7 linked regions of the Homo sapiens genome follow. Changing the gene in region 5 together with the main gene of any one other region gives a genetic interaction. Each region holds a gene or a part of one and is shown on either strand. Other genes may lie near its edges. The genes, in order: SURF4, KMT5B, RPAP1, CACNG1, ETAA1, KIF3C and LRRC57.

Region 1 (3,500 bases), on a different chromosome or scaffold from region 5:
TCAGCCTTTCCAAAGGCATTTCCACAGACTTCATAATACATTAGGCCGTCTCTCCAATGTCAGCTGGAGTCTAAAACACACAAAACCATTGTAGGAGACCGAGGACAGATCTAAGCTCAAAAATGTGGTTCTGTATTTCTCAAGAAATGTGCTATGATGTTCCAGAGAACAAAGTGATTCTGAGACCACTGATGTGGATTCAGATATTCTGTTCCCAGCATTTCATTCTGAATAACCAAGTATTCTTCTTTATGAAGCAACGTGATAACAAGACAGCATCCTGGCTGCAGCCAAGCTCGAGACTTCCCTTGTCACGGTAATCATAGAAATGGGACAAAAGATGGCCCAGTACCGAATGACCTGCCTCTACAGCCCTGCTTGGGCTCACGACTTCCCCAGAAGAGAAAGGAGCTCCAGGCAGTCAGAGACATGCAGGGGGCTGAAGGGGGAGTGACACTGAACCCTCAAGGATGTCTTTTCAGAAGCTCTGCTCCACCAGAGCAAAGAGAAGGGAGCCCCGACCACGCGGCCCGTGTACCTGCAGAGCTATGATTCCAAAGAGCCCGAAGCAGGCGTACTGCACGAAGTTCCTGCTCAACACCAGGACGCAGCCAGCTGGAGAGAAGGACAAGGGTTAGGGGGCCTGAGGGTGGGTGCCGGCGGGGAGCACTGTCTTGATACACTGCTACCTCACCTGGCCCTTAGGTCCAGAGGCAGCCAAACCACCTACCCAAGCAAAAGACAACTTCTGGAAGAATTAATGATAGGCAAGGACCACACATGGTAAGCTGACTAGACTTATCACAAACACCAGAAAGTGGAGCCCTTGCCGTCATAAAGAATGGGCTGTTTCCCACAATCAGCTCCCAAGTCAGCCACCCACCTGAGGTAGGCAATTAACTGCTCTACTGTGGACTGCCAGCCAGACTCCAGCATCTCCTGCTTTGGGTCCCTGACAGGGACCATGTCCTATTTCCTTAGCAAGCTCTAAAGCAGTGAGCTCAGGGCTAGAGACTAAGCGTCCCCACCAAGGCTTGCAGAACCGGACTCCTGGCCTGGCACAGCTGAGCTGGAGAAGAGGGGAATGGAGGGGGGACAGCAGTCCAGGAGACCCCCGAGTTCACACACAGCCTCCCAACTGCTAACGATCATGGAACAAGACGCCCAGTGAATCCTGACCACCCGCAGAGCCACTCACTCAGCTGTCCCAGCAAGTTGAGGAAGACGAAGGACGAGGCCAGCAGGTAGCCGCAGTTCCAGGTGGTGTCGATGTAGTCGCGCTGCTCGCTCCACTGGAACCACATACGGATGCCGTCCTCCAGGAAGGTGCTGATCAGACAGAGGCGCGCCACGTGGGGCAGGTACTGCTTTGTGACACGGAGGAACTGCAGGGCCACAGAAACCCAAGGGTGAGGTGGCTGCGGCGGGGAGCACCAGGCCGCTGCCAGGCACGTCCTTGGGCGGGGTGTGTGAGGAACAGACGCTGTGGAAGGCAAGAGCTCTTGTCAGCCCCGGTGCCTTCCCAGGGCAGACTAGGGGGCTCTCAGTGCTTGCTCCTGAGCGCTACCCTGTGAGTCTGGACACATGCAACAATCCAAGGATCAGTCCCGGAGATGCATGACTTGACGTTAGGCCCTCTGGGGCAGATCCTATAGGGCAGCAGCCCTAACACTCTGCTACCGTGATTTCCCCCAGTGCCTCGGCAGGCAACTACAGTCTTCCAAGGTGGCACTGCCACAAGACACAGAGCTGCTCTTTTCGGTCAAAGGCATTTACAAGTTGGAATCACAGAATGACATCTGAAAAGGCACTTAGAGGTCATCTATCCAACGTTTCTGCACCTCAGCACTACTGGCATCTGAGGCCAGGCCACTCTTTGCCGTGGGTCATCCTGGGTGCTGCAGGCTATGACGCACGACATGTCTGCCCACGACATGCCAGCAGCAGCCTCCCTCCTGAGGCACCGCTGCACTTTGCCAGGCATCTCCGCTGCTCTGGTCCAACCCCTCACCTTACAAATGGCTATATTAAACCCAGCGGGAAGGGGTTCCCCTAGGCTTCGCAGACCTGATGGTGCAATGCCAAGACTTGACCCCAGCCTGCAGGTCACACATGGCTGAGGTGCCAAGGGCCTGGACCTCCCAGCCTGCCCAGTGACGCCCAGAGTACCCTGACAGAACAAGGGTTGGCTTAGGTGACAGCCAGGGTGCCACACCTAGAGGGCCACATGGTTGACTGAATAGTAAGATCACGTTTACAGTTATCCGAAAATCTCCAGAGCAGCAGGAGGAGGCCCCAGGCTCTGGACAGCGCATGTGTGCTGTTGCAAACCAGGGCTGGCGCTTCCCAGCCCGACGGAGCTCTCCCCTGCAAGCTCAGGATCTGACGTGGGGACTGTGTGTGCAGCAACCGTCAGCGCAGCATGAAGCTGGTACCGCTAATGGCTAGAAAGCGCTGGGATTTTGTCAAAGCCTGCATAATCTCGAGCAAATTAAAACACACTAACAAATGGGATGGACAGCTGTTTCAACAGCAATGAAACGCAAGTGTGTGAAATCACTGTCAAATGTCAAAGGGAAAGAAAACATTTATGACTTCCTGCTGTGCTGTGAGTCAGGTCATTTATGACGGCTGGGTTAGGTAGCCAACATGCACTATCGGATGCCAGGTACAAATGTCACGCAGGTTCACCCCATGCACTTTTCTCTTATCACCCATGCAAAACTGAGATATAAAGTGAAAGAAATACTGTAACACAGCAAGTCCTTCGGAGAAAGATCAGGGGACCCATCCACCAACGCATGTTGGGAAGCCAGAGTCTAAAGAGCACCCGAGAGGCTGACCCCCACGGGAGGCGAGCGAACGTCAGCTGCACAGGCCTCCTAGGGCTGACTAAACCTACTGTTGGAACAAAGGAAGATATGCGTGTTTCTTATTTTTCAGCATTTTTAAAAGTTGCTTCAAAGTCCTAGACACTGCTGAAGCTGCCCATCTCAGTTACCACGCCCCTGGGTGTTCAGGTCACCCTCCAGCCTGTCAGGTGGGGCCCTGACTAGGTCAGCACTGCAGATTGGCTCCCATGTGGCAGAGAACGGAGGCAGAGATTACAAAGCCAGGTGGCCATTCTCCCCAAACCCACTGCGCCCTGCAGTGTCAGTTCTGCACACATTTACTCAGCCTTTGACTCCACGGAAGTGATGGGAGAAATCACAGTGACCGACAGATACCCAGAGAATCACCAAGTGGGTTTGGGAGATGAAGTGCAGGTGGAGGTTCTGAGGCCCTGTGATCTCATCCTGCCCTGGTACCATCCAGCCAGCACACCGTGTGACCTGGACACGCCCAGTTACTTTTTTGAGAGTGTCTCTACTATCCTGCAGTAGAGTGAGGCCACCTGAACTAATGGTTGGTAAGATGCTTTCCAACTTTACTAGGAGGAAGACCTTGTTTCACTTTTTATTTTTAAAAAGGCCCCAAATACTCCCCTGTGAATTTTAGGG
Region 2 (4,050 bases), on a different chromosome or scaffold from region 5:
TCTAGGCCCTATCAATGACTTATACAAACAGTGATAGAGCAGAGAATGGAATAAGAATTGATTCTTATTCCATGGTCCTTCAACTATTCCTAAAATTACACTTCTATACAGCAGTCATCATTTGACATACGGCCCTAGAAGATGGCCTGGTGTTCAAGTCTGTCTCATTCGGAGACCGGCTAGCCCCAAATCAACCCCATCCAGACACATAATGGATCACCCCCTGCATTTACTTAACATGCAGTATTGTAGCTAACAGGGTGATGGAGCGGAGGGAGGACACATGGTCCCTATCGTCAAAAGTGTGAGGAAGATTCTTAACCATCAGAGCGTTCTAAGGCTGACATAGTCGGGGAACTCCTGACCACGGAGAAGGATTTTGCCAATGGAGAGATTTGCCAATGTAAAGCTCATACATGGTACACAGAAACACGAAATAATGGGACCACGGCGATTTATCTGAAAGGATTTGCTCTGTAAGCCATGGGAAGGGCATTCCTGTGGACAGGGAGCTGCTTAGATGCCACACACACAAATCTCTTTATCACACAACCTGGCCACGAACCCAGGCCCTATAAACCCACAAACTGATAATCAGGTAAAGGAAAATCAGATTCAACCTCCTTTTTAAATAACCCAAGAGAAAAATCACCAACATCCCCCACCCACTAAATTCTCTGCTGAAAGACACGCAGACACCGGGACACTTCCTTCACACGCGTCTCTCCCTGTCAGAGTCCGCTACCCTCCATCCACCTCCACCTTCCCCACTACTGTCCCCTGGCATTTGCTGCGAGAATAAAAAGTTCACTGCATGAGCAGTTCAGGGTGTTTGGGAAAGCAGATGAAAATAAAGGCGCGAGAGCACTTGGAAATGATCATGGATAAAGAATCAAGCCCTACCCTACTCTCTTATTGAAGAAATATCTACCATATTCCCTTCACTCTCCAGCTCAGTTTTTAAAATATAATTATGTTTGTAAACAACATTAAAGTGGATTTATTTTGAAAAACTAATACAAACTATTAAGCTTGACAACTTGGAGATTAATAAATTAACCCATTCATTAAGGGTCTATGAGCACCTACTCTGTACCTGCCCGTGGGCGGACGAGATAACAAGAGACTCAAAAACTCACGAGTAACCACCCCAACGGCTGTGTGTGTGAAGGTTTCACCAGGAAGCAACATTCTCACGGGGCCTTTCTGAAGGACAAGAGTGTACGGGGTGGAGAAAAGGGGTGGAGGAATGCCGGGCAGGGCACGGCCGACAGGGACCAGGTATGGGAAGCTATTGGAGCCAGAGCTTGGGAGAGGGACCAGAATGTCGAATGTTTAGAGATTACAAAGTGAAAAATGGGCTGGAGTTCCCACACAAGCCGGGATTAGAGCGTTTGTGGACTCTAACCTGGGAATATAAGGCGCTCCAAGAGGGACAGGGCCACACCTCTGGTTCAAATTGCTAAACCTTCAGATACACAATAAATCTGTATTTACAGCAAGCGGCAATTTATGTATTTCAACATGCACACATTATCTGTAATTATTTCAGGTAAAAATGGTTTCCTCCTCTTTTGAAAATACTTCTTTTTACTACTAATTATCAATATTATAGGCGTGTTCTCAATATTAAAGACTAAAGGAAAAAAGTTATAGCTGGCAACTGCTTCCTCTAAAGATCCTACACAGCAAAGTTCAGACCTGTATGGCCATCCTCAACTACACTTTATATCAAACTGGTTTAAATCGAAAAAGGTCCACATCACAAAGAACCACAATCAATCAAATTAATTCACCTGCCCTCTATTCTAAGGAAAACTCCCCCCACTCCAGGTAAATTTCATTTGGCAAATTCTTAAAAATTAACTTCAAAGAACACATGTTCACCTCCCCAGTATTCCGAAAGTTCCACCACTTAATAAATCGTTAAGTTACTGTTCCAGACCCGGGTCCAATAAACCCAAATAGACTGAATTTCTCAGCACCCAACTTGTTTCTATCTTAATCCAGCAAGTTGCATCGAGTTGTCATTGTTCCTCCTTCCAAGGCGGAGGTGACAACGGTGCACATCATCCGCGAATACGTGGAAGGACAGACACACACCAGGGGACGCAGGGAGAGCGGATAAAGCACAAAGGGGACGCAGCGGCCGCGGGGTCGCCGGGCCACGGCCAGGGGCGCCGTCGGGGAGGAGGGTGGGCTGCAGGACGAGCTCGGGAGGGCTCCGAAATGCGCTCGGGCCAAAACAAAAACAAAAAGTTCAGCGCGGCAGTGGGAGCAGATTGGGCGAGACGGTTCACGGCTGCCCATTGGAGAAAAGGGAAAACAGAGTCCCCCAATCGCGAGCGGCGGGGCTGCTCCCCTCGTGCGGCCGCGGGCCCGGCCCCGACGCTGCCCGGCGGCCGCTACCGCTCCCTTCCGGCCGCGGCCACCACTGCAGGCCCCGCGCCGGCCCCGCACCGGCCCGGCCGCAGCCCCGCCCCCCGCGCCCGGCCGCTTGCGCCCGGCCCCGGCCCCACCCGCCCTGGCCCCGGAGCCCTGCGACCGGCCTGGGCCCGCGGTCCCCCACGTCCCTGCCCGCCCCGTCACCGAGGCCGCCCCCCGCACACCCTCGCCGGCGCCCGCCCCTCCCCCGACTCACCGCCTGCGCCGCCCCGCTCCTCCTCGGGGCGCGTCCCAGGCCCCGCTGCCCGGCCGCTGCGATGCGGGGCCGCGCCGCCGGGCCCCGCGTCCCAGTCCCCCCCAGAAAATTAATCACCAAAAATAATTCCAGAGAAAAATGGAGAGTAAAATCCAAGATGGCGGCGCGGGCCGCAGCACCGCTCGCTCCCTCCGCTGACGGGAAAAATGAGTCCCCGCAGCGTCCGAGCCCCCCGCCCCCAACCGGCCGCCGCCGCCGCCGTCGCGCCCCCCGCGCCCCCGGCCTCGGCTCGCTGCGCCCCCGGCGCCCGCCCCCGCGCCCCGCCACCCGGGGCCTCACCTCGCCTCGCGCACGGCCGCCCGTACGAAAACCGTCCGCCGGCTTCAGGACTCCGCGTCCCAGGTCCGTGCGCCGCGCGGTGCCGCCTCCGGTTCCCGGGCGTCCTCACCTCATCGCCCCGCTGCCCTGCCGCCCGCACCGCCGCCGCGTCGCCGCCCCCGGTGAGCCGCCTGGACCCCGCCCGGGCACGGTGGAAGGATACGAAAAGAAGGCCGCGGCCTCGACGGCGGAGGGACACCGTGCGGCGCAGCTGCCACAGTGTGCGCGCGCCTCCCGCCAGGCCCAGCCGCCGCGGCGCTTCCACGGGGCTCTGTGCGGGACGCGGGCACGCGCGGGGAGCGAGTTCTGTGCCGGGCGCTCCCGACGGCGGAGGGACAAAGGGCGATTCAGAGCGAGCCGTCGCCTCCCCTCGTGGCGGAGGGATTCGCGGCCGGCCGGTAGGCGGCTGGGATCCCTCCGCCCTCGCTGCCCTTTAAATCGCGGCTGAGGCGGCGTCGCCCGCGCCCCGCGGGCGCCACGTTAGGGTCCCCTGCGGCCCTTACGCGACCGCATTCCGGTCCCGGTCCCCGCGGGACCGCGGCAGCTGTCCCGGGCCCTGGGTCTTTGCACACCTGCCCCTACCAGGGACGGCTCTAGAGCCAGCCTCTCGGACTGCAGCCCTGGGGAAGGGGACCCCCCCCCCTCCCGCCGCGCGTCCCAGTTGCTCCGAGGGAGGTGGCCCCGGGCAGACGAGCGTTTTTGTTGTGGGAATGGGGGTCACTGGCAGCAGATGCACCCTAAGACCGTGTGGGCAGGCTGAGCGTTCCTGCGCGGAGCATGCGAGGGAGGAGGAGAGCGGGCGCGCCTTGGCCTGGCCCCCCGCGGGCCCCGCCGCCCCCAGCACCCACTATGTGCCCCGCGCCGTGCTCCGCTCCACTCCGGGTGTGCCCTGCGCGCTGGCCGTGCGATCCCTCCTCGGGGATCCCGGGCTGGCGGGGAGATCCTGAGGGACCGGGCCGCCTGCGAGCCGGGGAGCTGCGAAGCTTGCCTGGGCATCGATCTTGTAGTCCAGACAACAGAACGATGAGCGC
Region 3 (4,074 bases), on a different chromosome or scaffold from region 5:
GTACATGGGAGAACATGATGAAGTTGACCACCTCCTAAAAGTTGAAGGAGGATGAGATGGAGAGGTAGACAAGCTAGATAGCTGGAACTAACAATAGTGCTGAATGAAGGCCGGGTGTGCTGGCTCACGCCTGTAATCCCAGCACTTTGGGAGGCCAAGGCAGGCAGATCACGAGGTCAGAAGATCGAGACCATCCTGGCTAACACGGTGAAATGCCGTCTCTACTAAAAATACAAAAAATTAGCTGGGTGTGGTAGCACGCGCCTGTAGTCCCAGCTACTGGGGAGGCTGAGGCAGGAGAATGGCGTGAACCCGGGAAGTGGAGGTTGCAATGAGCCAAGATCGTGCCACTGCACTCCAGCCTGGGGGACAGAGCATGAGACTCTGTCTCAAAAAAAAAGTGCTGAATGACACATTTCCTTACTTTTTCTTCATCTACTTCTAAGCAGGATCAGATCTAATAACTAAGCCAGCCTTGGAAACACCTCCCAACACAGGGGTTGGGGGCAGGCTAAAGGGGTAGAAATGGTGAAACAATCACATGACGGTGTGACCTTAAGAACATTATCAAAAAATTTTTTGAGAGTTTACTCTGGGCTGAGCGGTGTACAAGGGGCTGTAAATATAAAGAAATGGGAGTAAAATCCAGTCCCTGGGTTCAAGGGGCTTACTGGGGAGACAGAGACCATGCCGAAATGCTGGGTCTTTTAATAATTTCCCACTTCATTATCTCTCTTTGCCCACACAAGTCTAGAAATTCCAAAGGTTTACAGTTTAAATGATGTCTCCAAGATTGTAAAGGTCTTCCTTTGGTCAATGATGTACCCAAAGTTGGGGTGAGAGAATATGGTAAACACACATATAAATTTACAAGGCAGTACATCCCAGTGATGAAATTAATTGCATAGAAGATCAGTGCTACACGATTTCAGAGGTGGGAAAAATCCCTAAAGGTTAAAAATAGAGGTCAATATTGAAAGAGAAAACTTAGATAAGTAGAGAACTGAAGGAAGTGGATGAAGTGAGCAAAGACCTGTCTACAAAATTTCATCTTAAATTTGGCATAGAACTTGTATTAATTACTATTTGTAGCATGACAACAGCGAAGTATACAGATGTGCCTTTTCCTGGATGGGAGGTAAACAGTATGAAAATGGACTGCCTGTGTTCAAATCCAGGCTCTGCCATTTACTAACTGTGTAAGCTTAAGCAAGGTATTTTACTGAAGTTACTGTGCTTGTTTCCTCATCTGTAACATGAAGATAACTGTACCTACCTCCTGAATTAATTATATATATGTAAGAAGATTAGAACAGAGTCTCATACATGAAAGGACACAAACGCCAGTTATGATTCTTATTATTTATATAGCCAAAGGGCAGATAACCATATCTAATTGTTGGGCAGTCTGACCAACAAACAAGGAAAAAGTCTCCTACCCCAATGCCTACCCAAAGGCCCTAAGGAAGGCTGAACTAGATGAACTGAGAATCCATAGTATGGTAACAATTCACTCCTATAAGAGTCTACATAAGCAGAAACAATTCCTACTTATCCATGGATTCATGTGATCCAAAAGCAAAGTCCAGCTCACTTCATAGGGTGCGCCATACCTACATCACAAAGAGAGCCAGGGGGTTATGGGCACCAGTTTTGGAATCAATAGGCCAGAAGTCAAATACCAGTTCCGCTACTTACTAAATGCACTAAATGTGCGAAATTAGGCAAATTATCAATGCTGTCCTTTTTTTTTTTTTTTTTTTTTTTTTGAGACAGATTCTCCCTCTTGTTGCCCAGGCTGGAGTGCAATAGCACGATCTCGGCACACTGCAACCTCCGCCTCCTGGGTTCAAGTGATTCTCCTGCCTCAGGCTCCCGAGTAGCTGGGATTACAGGCGCCTGCCACCACGCCCGGCTAATTTTTTGTATTTTTTTAGTACAGACGGGGTTTCACCATGTTGGCCAGACTGGTCTCGAACTCCTGATCTCAGGTGACCCGCCCGCCTCGGCCTCCCAAAGTGCTGGGATTACAGGCGTGAGCCACCGTGCGCGGCCTCTATGCTGTCTTAAGTCCCATTTCCACAACTGTAAAATGTGAGTAACAGGTCCTATATAATAGGAAATGTGTGAGGATTTAAATGACTATACACGCAAAACGCCTAGCCCAGTGCCTGTTACTTATATAAATAAACCTCAGTAACAATTATTTTAGTCCTAAGTAAAGCCACCAGTGTGTTTCCCCACAAATCCAGCGCAGATTTGTCCAGAACCAATCAGTGCTAGAAGTGATAACATTTTCAGTTATTAATAGAATAAGAATGGGTTGGCCGGGCGCGGTGGCTCACGCCTGTAATCCTAAAGAGTAATGCCTAAAGAGTAACTCGTAAAAAAAAGTAGTCCTAACAATGGACCTCTGGGTTTATGTTGGCCTCTGAGGAGTCTCTGGGGCTCTTACATTGCAGCCTATCCTCCAGAGCCAGGATCCAATCCCGAGTCGGGACGCGTGACTGCCCTTACCGCTCAGGTCAAGGGCTCCAGTTAAGCCTCCTGGACCACCCAACTCTACAATGAGGAATCATCGAGTCGCAGCTTTCGCCGCCCGTTGAAGGGCCGTGCCCGAGATCTATGCACAGAGGAGGCCACAGTTGCTCCCTTACAGACCAAAGGCCCGCAGGCAGGTTCCAGCAAAGAAACTGGACACGCTACCCTGGGTCCTCCTCCCAGATCACCTGAAATCCGTCCCTCCAGCCCCGCCACCTACGTGCTCCAGGCCTGTCTGGGCGCCGCCATCTTGCCCCGCAGAGATCGCGTTTCCGCCGCCGCCAGATTCCAGCTTCCGCCCCGCAGCCCAGCCCCGCCTCTCCCGGTCTTATCTCGGAGCATTCTGGGCTTTGCTTGTTCAGTGCAGCGGACTGGTGAGCGCGGTGCTGCGCGGCTGGCGGTTTATTACCCCCACGTAAGCTCTATACCATCACCCAGAACACACATCCTTTTTTTTTTTTTTTTTTTTTGAGACAGAGTCTTGCTCTGTCGCACAGGCTGGAGTGCTGTGGCGCAATCTCGGCTCACTGCAACCTCCGCCTCCCGGGCTCAAGCGATTCTTGTGCCTCAGCCTCCCGAGTAGCTGGGATTACAGGTGCCCGCCACCACGTCTGGCTAATTTTTGTATTTTTAGTAGAGACGGGGTTTCACCATGTTGGCCAAGCTGGTCTCGAACTCCCGACCTTAGGTAATCCGCCCGCCTCGGCCCCCCAAAGTGCTGTGATTACAGGATGTGCCACCGCGCCTGGCCCACACATGCTTCTGATGTACAGCAGGCACAGCCCCTTCTGCACTTACGACACCCCTGGCAGGGACACAGCGTTCCTCAGACGTCCCTCTGCACTCACCAGCCAGTGTTACCACATCCCACATCCCAGCACCCACGCCCACGGCAGCACACAGAAACGTGGACACACACACACACCCCAACGTGACGAATGTGTTTATGGAAGAGCTAGAAGGTAACCATGAAAAAGGCCCAAGGAAAGAACACTGCCAGTGTGCACTGCAGAAATAGTGGTGGTGAGAAGAGAGGGAATAAAGCTTCCTTGCTAGCAAGGTTATCATCTTCTCCAGAATCTTGCCTTTGTTCATCCCACTCTCCCTTCTTGGAAATCCTCCCTCTTTTCCCTGCCACCCCTGTCTCCAAAGGATAACTCTTTAAGGCCTAGCTGGCGTCAACTCTAAAACCTCTGCCAGCCACGCCTACTCACCAAACTTTCCTTGGATTCACCTGGAATCTCACCGCCTGCACCAGTTGTGTGGTATGCTAAGAACACACTGCCAACTACCAACTGTCACCGGTTACCTTTTCACAGGCTTATGTCCTGTTCCCTTGAATAGACTGTCAGTTCCTTGTGGGCACCAGACCTTGTACTTTGCATCTAAATACTGAGCACCCAACGTGTTGCCATGCACATAGTAGGACCTTAAGTAAATCATTTCTAGACCAAAGGACATCATGGGGCAGCCAATGTTAGTCCAGTGGCTTTCCAACTTTAACAGGCACCAGAATCAACTGGAAGTCTTGTT
Region 4 (3,500 bases), on a different chromosome or scaffold from region 5:
GCCCTGGCTTCCATCACACTTACACAAAGCTCAGGGATTGCAGCTTTGCTTCCGACTAAGTCAGCAAAGATTCCAATGCCAGGATGATGATCTGGGGTGTTAGGAACTCTGAGGTCGTGCCATTCTCCTTTGTCTCTGCAGATGGCTTATGCTGATTTTAATCTCCTTATTTCTGTAAGACTCAGCGGTTTAAAAATATTAAATGGGTTATTTATTAAAAATATGGTGAACTCAGCTCTCAGACTTGACTGGGGGATGGAATAGTCTGGCTAACCCAGTGTTCTGGTTAAGGGCATCAGTAACTGTGCAGAACCATGTGTAGTGTGCCAGTTTCAAAGAATTAGAGCAGAAGCCACATTTAGCTCCAAGCTGAACTTGAGTTAATAGGGATCTTTCTTTGATAGTTGGAACAGCTGGCAGGATTAGTGGATGCCTTGGGTTATCACTGAGAATGTATCAGTGTGCCAAGTGACTGTCCATGGAGACTTTCATATATTCAAAGATACTTTGTGGATTTGTCCAAAACCAAAGAAACTGGTACTTTAGGGGTGCAAGGAAGCCTCTAACTTGCATTGATGTCAGTGTTGTTTTTAGCCTTTTGGTAAAAGAAGTTCTATCAGCTCCCAACAGTGGTTTCTCTGGGCTGTGTCTCCTTCCACATCTCTGATTGAAGAATTTTATAAAATGGGCTGGAAATCTCCAAGACCTGACCCTAGAGCTTCAGAGCACTGCTCTTCCATGGGAGAAGCCTGGCTTTGGCCTAGGCCTCTGGCATGGACTTCTGTGGGTGGTGAAGTGAGCCCATGAAATTCCTGGGGTCAGTAGTATCATGCTCTTTTATACAATCCCAGTTCCCGCACTGAGAGAAGATGGACCAGTAGGGAAAATGGGGCACTAGGCAAAGTGGGCCCTGGGGCAACCTGCCTCCTTGCCCTAAAGAGGCAGAGTCTGAAAGAAGCAGCACTTCACCCAGCCCAAGGGCAGGGGATGGCCTCTTTGCGGGTTCATTTGGACTTTCAGAACACATAGTCTCTCCTTTGGGAGAGGCTCCTACTCTCATTCTGGAGGCATTGGAATTGGTCTTGGATGTTGATCTTGTACATGGAAGTCCTTCTAAGACTGTTTGGAGTCTAAGACTGTCTAATTTGGAAAAATTAGACAACTCTTGCCCACTGAGCCTCCAACATTTTAAGACTAAGTGGGACCTTGAGAAGTCTGCTCCACTGCACCAGCTTCTGGTCCAGCTGCCCTCAAACTATGCCATGTCAAAAGCTGGACTCCTTGTGTTCACTTGGGTCAGAGCTTTTAGGAGCTGTGTTTTCATGCACAATAGAGGGTGTGAGAAGGAACTGGAGGGAAAGGAGGCTCTGGATTCAAGACTTGAGTGGAGAACCTCTATTTGTTAGCTGGTTAGCCTGGGGAAGGCTATGCTCAGCCTCCCTGTTCCTACCTGTAGAATGAGACCCACCTGTAGAATGAGAACCACCTGTAGAATAGGAACCACCTGTAGAATGAGAACCACCTGTAGAATGAGACCCACCTGTAGAATAAGAACCACCTGTAGAATAAGAACCCACTCACTGGGTTGTTGTAAAGTAGTTAATGTATTGACTAAAACGGTGAATGTTAGGGTCTGAGTGTGAGTCCTGGCTGCTCTGCTCATCACCTGTGTTACCTTGTCAAATATCTCAACTCTCAGTGGTTGATTTTCTTTATCTGTAAGATTGGGATGATGATAATAGCATGGCCTTCACGGAGGTTTCTGTGAGGATTAGGTGAGCTAATATATGTATGTCATCCCACCACCTTCTGGCCTCCATAGATTTGGGGAAAAATTGGCTGTTCATCTTATTAAGGATTCCTCATATGTGGTGAGTTGTTTCTTTCCGTTTTTAAGATTCTCTGTCTCTATCTTTCAACAGTTTGATTATCATGTGTCTAGATGTGGATCCCTTAGAGTTTATTCTACCTGGAGTTCATTAAGCTTCATAAATTTGTCGATTTTTAACGTTTTTCATCCAATTTGGGAAGCTTTTGGACATTATTTTTCACATACCTTTTTTGCTCCTTTCTCTCTTTCCCTCTCCTTCTGGGACTCCCTTTACATAAACTTGATGGTGTCCCATAAGTCTCCGAGGCTCTCGTCATTTTTCTTTATTCTTTTTATCTGTCTGTTCCTCAGACTGGCTAATCTCAACTGACTTATCTTAAAGGTCACTGATTCTTTTGCCTGCTCAGATATGCCATTGAGCCCCTCTAGTGAATTTCTCATTTTAGTTATTGTACTTTTCAACTCCAGAATTTCTATTTTGTCCTTAAAAATAATTTCTGTGTCTTAATTGATAGTTTCTATTTCATGAGGCATCATTTTCATCTTTAATTGTTTTGATTGTTTTTTCTTTGGATATATTTACTATAGCTGATTTAAAGTTTTTGTCTAGTAAGTCCAATATCTGGCTTCCTTACAGATCTATTGACTTCTCCCTGCCCCATGTATGCCCCTTATCATTTTAGTTCTTTGTGTGTCTTGTATTATTTATGTATGTATTTATTTATTTAGAGACAGAGTCTTGCTCTGTCACCCAGGCTGGAGTGCAGTGGCATGATCATAGTTCACTGTAGTCTCTAACTCCTGGGATCAAACAATTCCCTCACCTAAGCCTTGGGAGTAGCTAGAATTACAGGCACATGCCACCACTCCTGGATATTTTGTGGGGTTTTTTTTTTGTTTTTTTTTTTTTTTTTGGTAGGGACAGGGTCTTGCTATATTGCCCAGGTTGATCTCAAACCCCTGGCCTCAAGCAGTCCTCTCACTTGGCCTCCAAAAGTGCTGGGAATACAGGAGTGAGCCACCACACCCAGCCAGTATTTTTTAAACAATATAATGTGGCAACTCTGGAAATCAGTTGTTCCCCCTTCTTGAAGATTTGTTCCCGTTGTTTGTTTAGTGACTTTTTTGAACTAAGATGGTAAAGTATGTGTTTTTTGTCATGTGTGATCACTGAGATCCCTGTTCAATTAGCTTAGTGACCAATTATAAATTTCCTAAAACGCTTGGCAACAATGCCTCTCCCAGTCTTTACTGAGGGGCTCTGTGCATATGACTTTCATGCTCAGCTAAGCCACCCACATCTCTGCCTTAGCCTTCACTTCCTGCTTGAACAGAGTCTCAAGATAAGGCAGAGAGTGCTTAGGGCCTTCTCAGGTCTTTCCTGAGCATGCATATAGCATTGTGCATGCATGTGGCCTCCTAGATTCCCAGGAATATGTTGGAGCTTTTCAAAGCAACTTATGGACATTTCAGTCTCCAGTTTTTTGGTTAGCCTGTTGTTTTCCCTAACTGTTATCTACTGCCTCAGACAGCCATGATGTTAATCAATCATCTCTAATTATTTTCAACAAACATCCCCAGGGAGAAAGACTATTTGCACTGGATGAGCTCAGAGTCAGGTCAAACAGAAACAGCTTCTCAAGTGGGGGTTTTCAGGGAATCACCAGAC
Region 5 (3,500 bases):
TGGCTTTGAATGCAGCCCAACACAAATTCATAAACTTTTTTACAACATTATGAGATTCTTTTGTGATTTTTTTTTTTTTTTTTTTTAGTTCATCAGCTGTTGTTAGTGTCAGTGTATCTTATGTGTGATCCAAGATAATTCTTCCAATGTGGCCCAGGGAAGCCAAAAGATTGGACACCCTTGGGTGTAGAGAATTATTTACTGTAAGTTTTGATAAGATAAATTGGTATAACTGCTTCGGATAGAAATTTGGTGGTATCCATCAAATTTTAAAACTTCCTCTTGTAGCAATTTTTTAGGAATTAACAGATACAATTATACAAGCATGCGGAAATTTATGCAGAAGGATATTTACTGGAGTATTGTTTGTAATTGCAAAAGACTGCAACCAACCCAAACTTCCATCACAGAGAAACAGTTAAATTATGATACATCCACCATATATATCACATAGTCATTAACAGGACTAAAATAAATTTATATGTACTAATAGGAAAAGACAGCTATAATATATTAAGGCAAAAGCAAGTTGCCAAATAGTGGGTATACAGATTTATTAATATTTAAATAGATCTATAGGTATATATATATGCATACACATATATACGTACATACACACACACATATCTTTTTATATTCATAGAAAATGCTACATCATACCAACTATTAATAGTGGTTTTCCGTAAGGGATGGTTATCAGAAAGGAGAAACAGAAGACTTAACTTTTTCCTTTAAATTATTCTATACTGTTTTACTTTTCTTTTTAAATAACTAGCATATTACTATTGTAAATTTTTAAAAAAAGTCACTTAGATAGGAAAGTTGGAACAGTAATGCCAACAAGACAGAGAAGAGTCACTAAATATTTAATTTCAACTTGTGATGAAAGCAATTAGGAAATAAAAAATAAACAAGGAGATCTATTTATAGACTCTTCAAGGAAGGCCTCTGTGAGAAAGTAGTACTTATACTGAGATGTAAGAAAGCACCAACAAAAGAGTGGGGAAGGGGTCACATGTTGAAAAGAAGTAGTTTTAGTCAAAGGGAAGAGCACGGTCTAAGTTCCTGGACAAGGAAGAAAAACATACACTGTTTGAAAAACTAAAAGATAGCTGGTATAGCTGAAGCTTAGTAGGTAAGGAAAAAAGAGGAGACGCAGGTTAAAGAGAGATAATCCACAGCTTTGTTGGTCACAGTATACAGTTTGGATTTTATTTGAAATATGACGGGCAGCCATTGAAGGTTGTTTTAAGCATAGAAACGCCATTTTTGCCCATCCAATTTTAAAAGGCTATTCCACTGTTTGGAGATAAGAATTGAAAGGAGATAGATAAAAGAACTGCAGTAGTCTCATCAAGAAATGTTAACTTGTTGTAGAAAGAAAAATGGAGTCTGGGGATACGGTTTTTGAAAGAATGAAACTTATTGATAGAATGGAGACTTGGGGAAAAGAGAAATTGGAAGAATCAGAAATGATAGCTGTTATCAAATAAGTAAATCATAATTTTAACCATCACCGCTAGCACGTTTATATCAAATATCACACTAGTAAAGACGTTTAATTAGAATGCTCTAAATTTCTAAATATTATTTACCTCACTGCTTCATCATCTGCTTCCCAGATTACTCAAGTTTTAAAACAATTTAGTAAATACAATCTTAATGAACACTATAATACATATATCTAAAGGTATGATTTTCCAAGAAAGAATAAGTTATTCAAAAAATATTTACTGAGTACCTACTATATGCCAGTCATTGTATTAAGTGCTGGGAAAGAATTCAATGTAATATTTTGAAAAATAAACCAACTACTCTGTATAATGCCGTATAATTATTTCCAAGTATCATTTTAAGAATTCTAGTTAATTCTTAAAATTAACTAGTCATAGAATAGTTTTACCTTATACATTACTCACACTCAAAAACAACAAATAATTATTTTACTACTTTTTAAGATGCTTTTCAAAGAAAACTATTTCATATTTCATACATACCTTTTGAAGATTGTTTCAAAGATTCAGAAAGTTTCACCAAAGATTGCTGTCCAACAGCTTCCTCCAGTAATGGGTTGACACCTTTCTTTTTCTCCACACCCTGTGTAATTTTGGTATCAGACATACTTCCAGTTATACAATTTTGATTAAACTGAGAAAGAATCTGAGAATTTTTCATCCTTGTAAATGTAAACTTTGAAAATCCAACTGTTGTGTTAAGGTTGCTCTGAGCTTCATCTGTTACAGTCTTATGGCATGGCTGATTAGTACTCAATTTCTTCTTATAAGTAGTAATTTCTGTATTCATATGATCTGAAGTTACATTCAAACTTGAACTTCCTGGAAGAACCAATTTGGAACTATTCACTTGTATTGGAACATCAGTGTTAGTATAAGACACATGCAGATTATTTATCTGACAGTTTGAGATCTTAGAATACATAGTCAAATTTGTGGCACCTAAAAATCTTGGAGAATTTCCATACATTTCCCCTTTCTCCATCTTCATTGGCTTATCTATTTGTGAGCTATTTGTCAAAGATGTCTGCACTGAAATGCTGCCTGGATTCAAATGCTTTGATTGTACCAAATTACTTCCTTGTTTAGATATAGCAAACATGTTTTTGGCTCCATGTTCGGAATTATTATTGATCTCACATATACTTTCTGATGTCTTACTGTCCTTTCTAATGTCTTGTTGCTGAGTTAGTTTGGCTCCATGTTCGGAATTATTATTGATCTCACATATACTTTCTGATGTCTTACTGTCCTTTCTAATGTCTTGTTGCTGAGTTAGTCTTTCAATATCATCACATGCTTGGTACAACAAATCATCATCTACATCATCTGCTTCCCAGGTATTATCTAATTGATGACATGCTTTAATAATTTCATTGGCAAATGAGGGATCATTCCAATCATCAAAGAAAGAACCTACTTTTGATGCACTAGTCTGATTTGGGTTACTAACACTGGTTTTACTGCCTAGATTTGCAGAGCCAAAAAGATCAGTATTAACAGGGGCTTTAATAGACTGATTTAAAATGCACTTATTTTTCTGTTCATTAGAATACCTTGTGTTCAAAGCTGACTTCCTTTCAGAAGCTTCAGTAGAGTTAGTAAGAATATCTTCCTTTATTTTTGTCAGATTAGATGTAACTATACAATTTTGAATTTCGTCTTGAATAACAATTTTATTGGAAGAGTTCTCAAATTTCATTTTATTTCCAGTGGATAATTTGTTTGATTTATTTGAATTTGGTGAAAATCTATATTCTGCATCTATTAATTCTCTGTCATATGTCTTTGAAGAAAGATCTTGTAATACTTTTGAATCTCCTAACCTGGCATCTGGACTTGTATTTGCTCTTGACGTATTTTTAACAGTTTTACTATTAAAGGTACAAATTTCCTTTTGATCAGTAACATGGGCTGTTTTAGAAGGAAAGAGTTCAGGCATGTCGATATTTTGCATAGCAAAAGGTTCACTACCTAGTAAGTTTT
Region 6 (2,200 bases), about 41 Mb from region 5:
TTCCCATCCAAGGTGGGCAGAAAGCAGAGTTTGGGAAGCTGTGAGTTCTTGTCAAAGCTGAAGGGCATGAGCTATGTTGGTGAGGTTATTAATGTCCTTGAAAAGGAGCCCAAGAGGCTGAATGAGGTTGTCTGAGGCTCAGAAAGTGGAGAGTGGGGCTGTGTCCACGGGGAGCAGATGCCCAACACTGTCAGGATGTCTCTTGTCCTCAGGGAACACCAAGCAGTCTCCCAGTCCCAGAAAGTGCTCAGGGGCTGCTCGCCATCAGTGTGGGAGAAGATGGAGGTTATGGAGTGCGGTGGGTAGAAAAGGGACTGTCTTCTCAGGCACTGGCTACCTTCCCTTCTGGAGGCAGCTGACAGGGGGACAAGCCTGAGATCTGACTGGGGGAGCTCTCAAGTCAGAAGAAAAAGAGGCTACGCAGTGACCACGGTAGGCCCAGACGGCTCAGGCGAGGGCATCTCCCCAACACGAACAGAGCTCCGCGAATAAATAACATGAATTAAATAAAGGAGGCGAAGAAGAGCAGGCAGAGGCACCATCTGCCAGATTCTCACCCCTGCACACACGCACACGCACATGCACGCACACGCACACGCACCAAGCGGCAGATGAGATGAGCCAGGGTTGGCTGCCCCATCCCAGGAGTCTATTGGATGGGCAGCCTGACGTGATGGTTGTCACTCATGGTCCGCCACTGTTGCAGGGCGCAGAGAAGCAGAGGCCAGGGAGGCATGTGTGGTGGAAGGTGGAGGCCGCTGAGGACTCTGGCACCTGCAGGGGAGATGACGCAGGCGAAAGGGGAGGTTAGGGAAATACAGGAAACAGGAAAGTGGGTCCTCTCCTTTGCCCCATCCTGTTGCTGCAGGAATCCTTCTGACATCCCCAGTCACCCCTTGCCCTTCCTGCCCTTCGGGTACCAGCAAAACCCTCTTTAGCATCACCCAGCGCCTGCAGTTCCCCTGCCTCCTGGGTCCAGTGCTGCCTGGGACCATGGAGGTACTGACCAGGATCTGGACTTTCGGACTTTAGACGTGGAAGGTCTTTCCAGAAAGCTGTCCAATCGCATGAGCCTCTCCATGTGTAGCGCACGAGGGTCTTGTTCTTGGTCGTGAGAGAATTCCATCTCAAAGACAGCTGGAGGGGACACATCCAACTCCAGAAACATTATGTTTTCAGCCTGTGGTGGGAATATCATGCCAGGCTTGAACAGTGCCCAGTCACTGTGCCTTCTAGGGACTCAGCCAGTCTTGGGTGTAGCAGGGCTGATGAGGTGGTTAGGGGAAGCAGAGGCTGTGAGCATCCCCTCCCATAGGCTCTTTTTTTTTTTTCTTCTGAGATGGAGTCTCACTCTGTTGCCCAGGCTGGAGTGCAGTGGTGCAATCTCGGCTCACTGCAACCTCCACCTCCCAGGTTCAAGCAATTCTCCTGCCTCAGCCTCCCAAGTAGCTGGGACTATAGGCACCCATCACCACGCCTGGCTAATTTTTGTATTTTTAGTAGAGACAGGGGTTCACCATGTTAACCAGGCTGGTCTCGAACTCCTGACCTCAGGTGATCCACCTGCCTCGGCCTCCCACAGTGCTGGGATTACAGGTGTGAGACACCTCGCCCGGCCTCCCTCCCGTAGGCTCTTTCTCCCCTCTCCGCTTCTTACCCTGTACCTGGGGTGGGACCCCATTGCCATGGCAACCCGAGCATACTGGCTGATAGGCCTCTTGTAGCCCACTGCAGATGTTGGCCGCTTCTTCATCTGGCTGCTACTGCTGTAGGAAAGAGGCTATATTAGAAAGGATTTCTGTGGAACACAAACAGCAAATGACATCATGAGGACCTAAATATCATTCAGGTAGCTAGGAGGCCCTGCAGACTGCAAGTTCTGGAATTTTCTTCTCCTTGCTCTAATACAGCTTGACAACTGAAGCTAGTGCAGTTGTCCCCCTCATCCGTGGTTTCGCTTTCCACAGTCTCAGTTACTGTGGTCTGAAAATAGGCAAGTACAGTACAATCAGATGTTTCGAGAGACAGACACACCTGCATCACTTCTATTAGAGTATATTGTGTTTTTGTTGTTGTTTTGAGATGGAGTCTCACTCTGTCACCCACGCTGCAGTGCAGTGGCACAATCTCAGCTCGCTGCAGCCTCCACCTCCCAGGTTCAAGCAATTCTCCTGCGTCAGCCTCCCGAGTAGCTGGGATT
Region 7 (3,500 bases), on a different chromosome or scaffold from region 5:
GAAGAATCCAAAAGATAGGAAGAAAAACCAAAAAAGGACAAAAATAAGGGGTTTTAAGGAAGGGATAGATAGTACAGTTAAATGCAGTAGGGACTGAGGACAATGGATCCTTGAATTTGGTAGTAAAGTGGTCAGTATCTATGTACACATAAAACATTGGCAGTAAATGTACCAAAATGTTTATGGTGGTTATTTCTGGGTGGTGGATTCCAGGTAAACTTTTTTCTTTAAACCTGTGATTCTCAAATTTTCTATAATGAACATACAGTGCTTTTATCATCAGAAAATTTTGTTCCCAAAAAGCCATGGGTGACCTTCATAAAAGCATTTTTTTTAAGTGGGGGCGTAGTAACAGAAGCTAGATAACAGAGGCTTCTGGAGTGAGTAGGCAGTGAGAAAATGGAGGTGGTAAAAGAGGGGAAAACTAGAACAAATAGTCAAGTAAAGATTTTTGTTTTGTTTTAATGTACTAAAAGTAACCAGTATAGTGCTTATGCTTTTTCCTGTTATTCTTTTGTGGTTTTTCAATAGATATCTCAGATCTCAGTGAAGATATCTTGCTGTCCACGCCTTAAAATTCTTCGCCTGGAAGAGAATTGTCTTGAGCTCAGCATGCTTCCCCAGAGCATCCTCAGTGATTCCCAGATCTGTCTGCTTGCTGTGGAAGGCAATCTTTTTGAAATAAAGAAACTTCGAGAACTGGAAGGCTATGATAAGGTATGAATTAATGTACTTCTGCATTTCTAGTCACTACCCCAGAGAAGACAATGGTGAAGTAATCCACAGAAATGTTTATAGCTCATGTCAACAGGATTTGTTCTTCCCCATTTTGGAAGTAGATTCAAAGCATTGGCTGAATGGTATTGTACCAAGATGACTTTTTCTCTATAGACAGCTTATTGTAAAGCATCTTTGTCTTCATCTTTGTCTTTTGATATATATATATATATAGTGTGTGTGTGTGTGTGTGTGTGTGTGAGACAGGGTCTCACTCTGTCGCCCAGGCTGGAGTGCAGTGGCGCAATCTCAGCTCACTGGCGCAGCCTTCACCTCCTGGGCTCAAGCGATTCTCATCCCTCAGCCCCCCTAGTAGCTGGGATCACAGTCGTGTGCCAGTATGCCTTGCTAACTTTTGCAGGGATGGGGTTTTGCCTTGTTCGCCAAGCTGGTCTCAAACTCCTGGGCTGAAGTGATCTGCCCGCCGCAGCCTCCCAAGGTGCTGGGATTACAGGTGTAAGCCACCACACCCGGCCCTATGTGCTTTATTTATTTATTTTTTTTGGAGGCAAGGTCTCACTCTGTCACCTGGCTGGAGTGCAGTGGCAGGATCTCAGCTCAAGTGATCCTCCCATCTCAACCTCCTGATTAGCTGAGACTACAGGCGCTACCATGCCTCATTTTTCTATTTTTGGTAGATTGCTCAGGCTGGTCTGAAACTCCTAGGCTCAAGCGATCCACCTACCTTGGCCTCCCAAAGTGTTGAGATTGCAAGTGTGAGCCTCTGCACCTGGCCAAAACTATGTAATTCATTTTGCATTTACAGCAGTTATATTTTGTAGGAAATGAAAAACCACATGCAATAAAAACCAAAATGAAAAAAAAAATAGTTAGGCTTATATTTATTTACTCATGCCAAAATACCCCTTATGTATTCTTTCATGTTTTTTAGTACATGGAGAGGTTCACAGCCACCAAGAAGAAGTTTGCGTGAAGTTCTCCAGGACTATGGAAACCTTACAGGATACTGACTTAGAACCTCTGTTGGAATGTGGCTGAGTCAAAGCCTCCTGTTGTTGTTAGGGGTATCTACAGTAAGGAGATGATACTTCAGGAGATTATATTTCACTCAATGATCTTTTCTCATTTCAGGGCTCTTCTCAAATAAGCTAAAAGAAAAAGGATCAGGAGACAGGAAAAGTCTTCCGTTTTGAGTCATGAGTAGGGCAATAGACAAGGTTCTCTTCAAAACCATCATTAGTTTGGCTTTAAGAAACCAGTAGCTAGCTGCTATTTATATGGTGAGGGGGTGCTGCCTGGTAACAGAATAGCTCCACACCACAGCTTGAGATTTTGTTTAGTTTCACTGTGTGAGCTTTCATAAAGTCTGTTGCCATTCCATCTCTGTGTTAACACTTCATATTTTTATGAAATTCAGATAATTTGTGAGAGGCTGGCATGGATCTAAGGATTTATTATTTTTATTCTAGTCCATCAGTTCAGTCGCAGTTTTTATACTAGGACTTTAGGATGTACATAAATGTGTGACTGTTTGTCTTGATTAAAAGTGCACTTTGGCCTGGGCATGGTGGCTCATGCCTATAATCCCAGCACTTTGGGAGGCCAAGGCGGGTGGCTCACTTGAGGCTAGGAGTTCAAGACTAGCGTGGCCAACATGAGGAAACCCTGTCTCTACTAAAAATACAAAAATTAGCTGGGTGTGTTGGTGCATGCTTATAATCCCAGCTACTTGGGAGGCTGAGGCAGGAGAATCGCTTGAACCCAGGAGGTGGAGGTTGCAGTGAGCCGAGATTATGCCACTGTACTCCAGCGTGGGTGACAGAGTGAGACTCTGTCTCAAATTAAAAAAATAAAAAATAATTTTTTTTTTTTAAAGTACGCTTTGTTGGCTGGGCACGGCGACTCACGCCTGTAATCCCAGCACATTGGGAGGCCAAGGCAGGCAGATCACGAGGTTAGGAGTTCGAGACCAGCCTGGCCAACATGGTGAAACCCTGTCTCTACTGAAAATACAAAAATTAGCTGGGCGTGGTGGTGGGTACCTGTAATCCCAGCTACTTGGGAGGCTGAGGCAGGAGAATTGCTTGAACCCAGGAGGCAGAGGTTGCAGTGAGCCGAGATCATGCCATTGCACTCCGACTCTGGGCAACAGAGCAAGACTCTGTCTCGGGGGAAACAAAAAAAAAGTGTGCTTTGTCAAGAGAAGCACCAGCAGACCTCTAAGAACTGCTCTCTAAGGCTGCGGTAGCAAATTATCTACTATTGCAGGTGCCTTATTGGTAGAGGGCTCTGAAGAGCCAAAACTGTATATGCAACACTTGTAAGATAAAAGGGACTTTAATAATCAAGATTTTCTTGAAGATTTGTTAGAAATAATGTCTTATTTCTGGTAACCTTTCCCTTTTTGTATTTATAACTCTACTAACCAAATTACCTATCAATAAACCATTACTATAATATTTTAAAACAACCTATGTTTATCAAGCTTACTCTCTGAGTGACAGAATATACTAAATAAAGAATTTTTTAATGAACTTTGGCTGGAAGCAAGGTTAATCCTTTAAAGGAGGAGGACAGGAGAACTTAAACCTATAAATAGATTAGGAAGACATGTTTCATGCTTATGTTCAGATTGTATGAGTAGTGAAATGCCTTCATGTGACATAAACATTTTGTGATACTAGAACTATGCTTATTAAGAGAATCTGAGGTTGGGCGCGGTGGCTCACGCCTGTAATCCCAGCACTTTGGGAGGCTGAGGT

Evidence for each region.
Region 1: changes in ETAA1 (region 5) and SURF4 are lethal when combined (synthetic lethality), as found in Homo sapiens cells (one large-scale study listed by BioGRID).
Region 2: changes in ETAA1 (region 5) and KMT5B are lethal when combined (synthetic lethality), as found in Homo sapiens cells (one large-scale study listed by BioGRID).
Region 3: changes in ETAA1 (region 5) and RPAP1 are lethal when combined (synthetic lethality), as found in Homo sapiens cells (one large-scale study listed by BioGRID).
Region 4: changes in ETAA1 (region 5) and CACNG1 are lethal when combined (synthetic lethality), as found in Homo sapiens cells (one large-scale study listed by BioGRID).
Region 6: changes in ETAA1 (region 5) and KIF3C are lethal when combined (synthetic lethality), as found in Homo sapiens cells (one large-scale study listed by BioGRID).
Region 7: changes in ETAA1 (region 5) and LRRC57 are lethal when combined (synthetic lethality), as found in Homo sapiens cells (one large-scale study listed by BioGRID).

Annotation. Positions count from the first base shown.
Region 1 is NC_000009.12:133,366,061-133,369,560, forward strand, and holds part of SURF4 (surfeit locus protein 4), read right to left. Parts: intron 1,484-3,500; coding exon of another isoform or gene 1,386-1,483; coding exon 1,199-1,385; intron 616-1,198; coding exon 539-615; intron 1-538. UniProt on the Homo sapiens protein: Endoplasmic reticulum cargo receptor that mediates the export of lipoproteins by recruiting cargos into COPII vesicles to facilitate their secretion.
Region 2 is NC_000011.10:68,210,497-68,214,546, forward strand, and holds the start of KMT5B (histone-lysine N-methyltransferase KMT5B), read right to left. Parts: upstream 2,801-4,050; 5' UTR 2,642-2,800; exon of another isoform or gene 2,638-2,641; intron 2,091-2,637; exon of another isoform or gene 1,140-2,090; intron 1-1,139. UniProt on the Homo sapiens protein: Histone methyltransferase that specifically methylates monomethylated 'Lys-20' (H4K20me1) and dimethylated 'Lys-20' (H4K20me2) of histone H4 to produce respectively dimethylated 'Lys-20' (H4K20me2) and trimethylated 'Lys-20' (H4K20me3) and thus regulates transcription and maintenance of genome integrity.
Region 3 is NC_000015.10:41,541,458-41,545,531, forward strand, and holds the start of RPAP1 (RNA polymerase II-associated protein 1), read right to left. Parts: upstream 2,801-4,074; 5' UTR 2,762-2,800; exon of another isoform or gene 2,456-2,761; intron 1-2,455. UniProt on the Homo sapiens protein: Forms an interface between the RNA polymerase II enzyme and chaperone/scaffolding protein, suggesting that it is required to connect RNA polymerase II to regulators of protein complex formation.
Region 4 is NC_000017.11:67,047,554-67,051,053, reverse strand, and holds part of CACNG1 (voltage-dependent calcium channel gamma-1 subunit), read right to left. Parts: intron 1-3,500. UniProt on the Homo sapiens protein: Regulatory subunit of the voltage-gated calcium channel that gives rise to L-type calcium currents in skeletal muscle. Regulates channel inactivation kinetics.
Region 5 is NC_000002.12:67,403,833-67,407,332, reverse strand, and holds part of ETAA1 (ewing's tumor-associated antigen 1), read right to left. Parts: coding exon 1,998-3,500; intron 1-1,997. UniProt on the Homo sapiens protein: Replication stress response protein that accumulates at DNA damage sites and promotes replication fork progression and integrity.
Region 6 is NC_000002.12:25,928,298-25,930,497, forward strand, and holds part of KIF3C (kinesin-like protein KIF3C), read right to left. Parts: intron 1,767-2,200; coding exon 1,658-1,766; intron 1,181-1,657; coding exon 1,008-1,180; intron 775-1,007; coding exon 681-774; 3' UTR 1-680.
Region 7 is NC_000015.10:42,542,294-42,545,793, reverse strand, and holds part of LRRC57 (leucine-rich repeat-containing protein 57), read left to right. Parts: intron 1-531; coding exon 532-717; intron 718-1,669; coding exon 1,670-1,711; 3' UTR 1,712-3,500.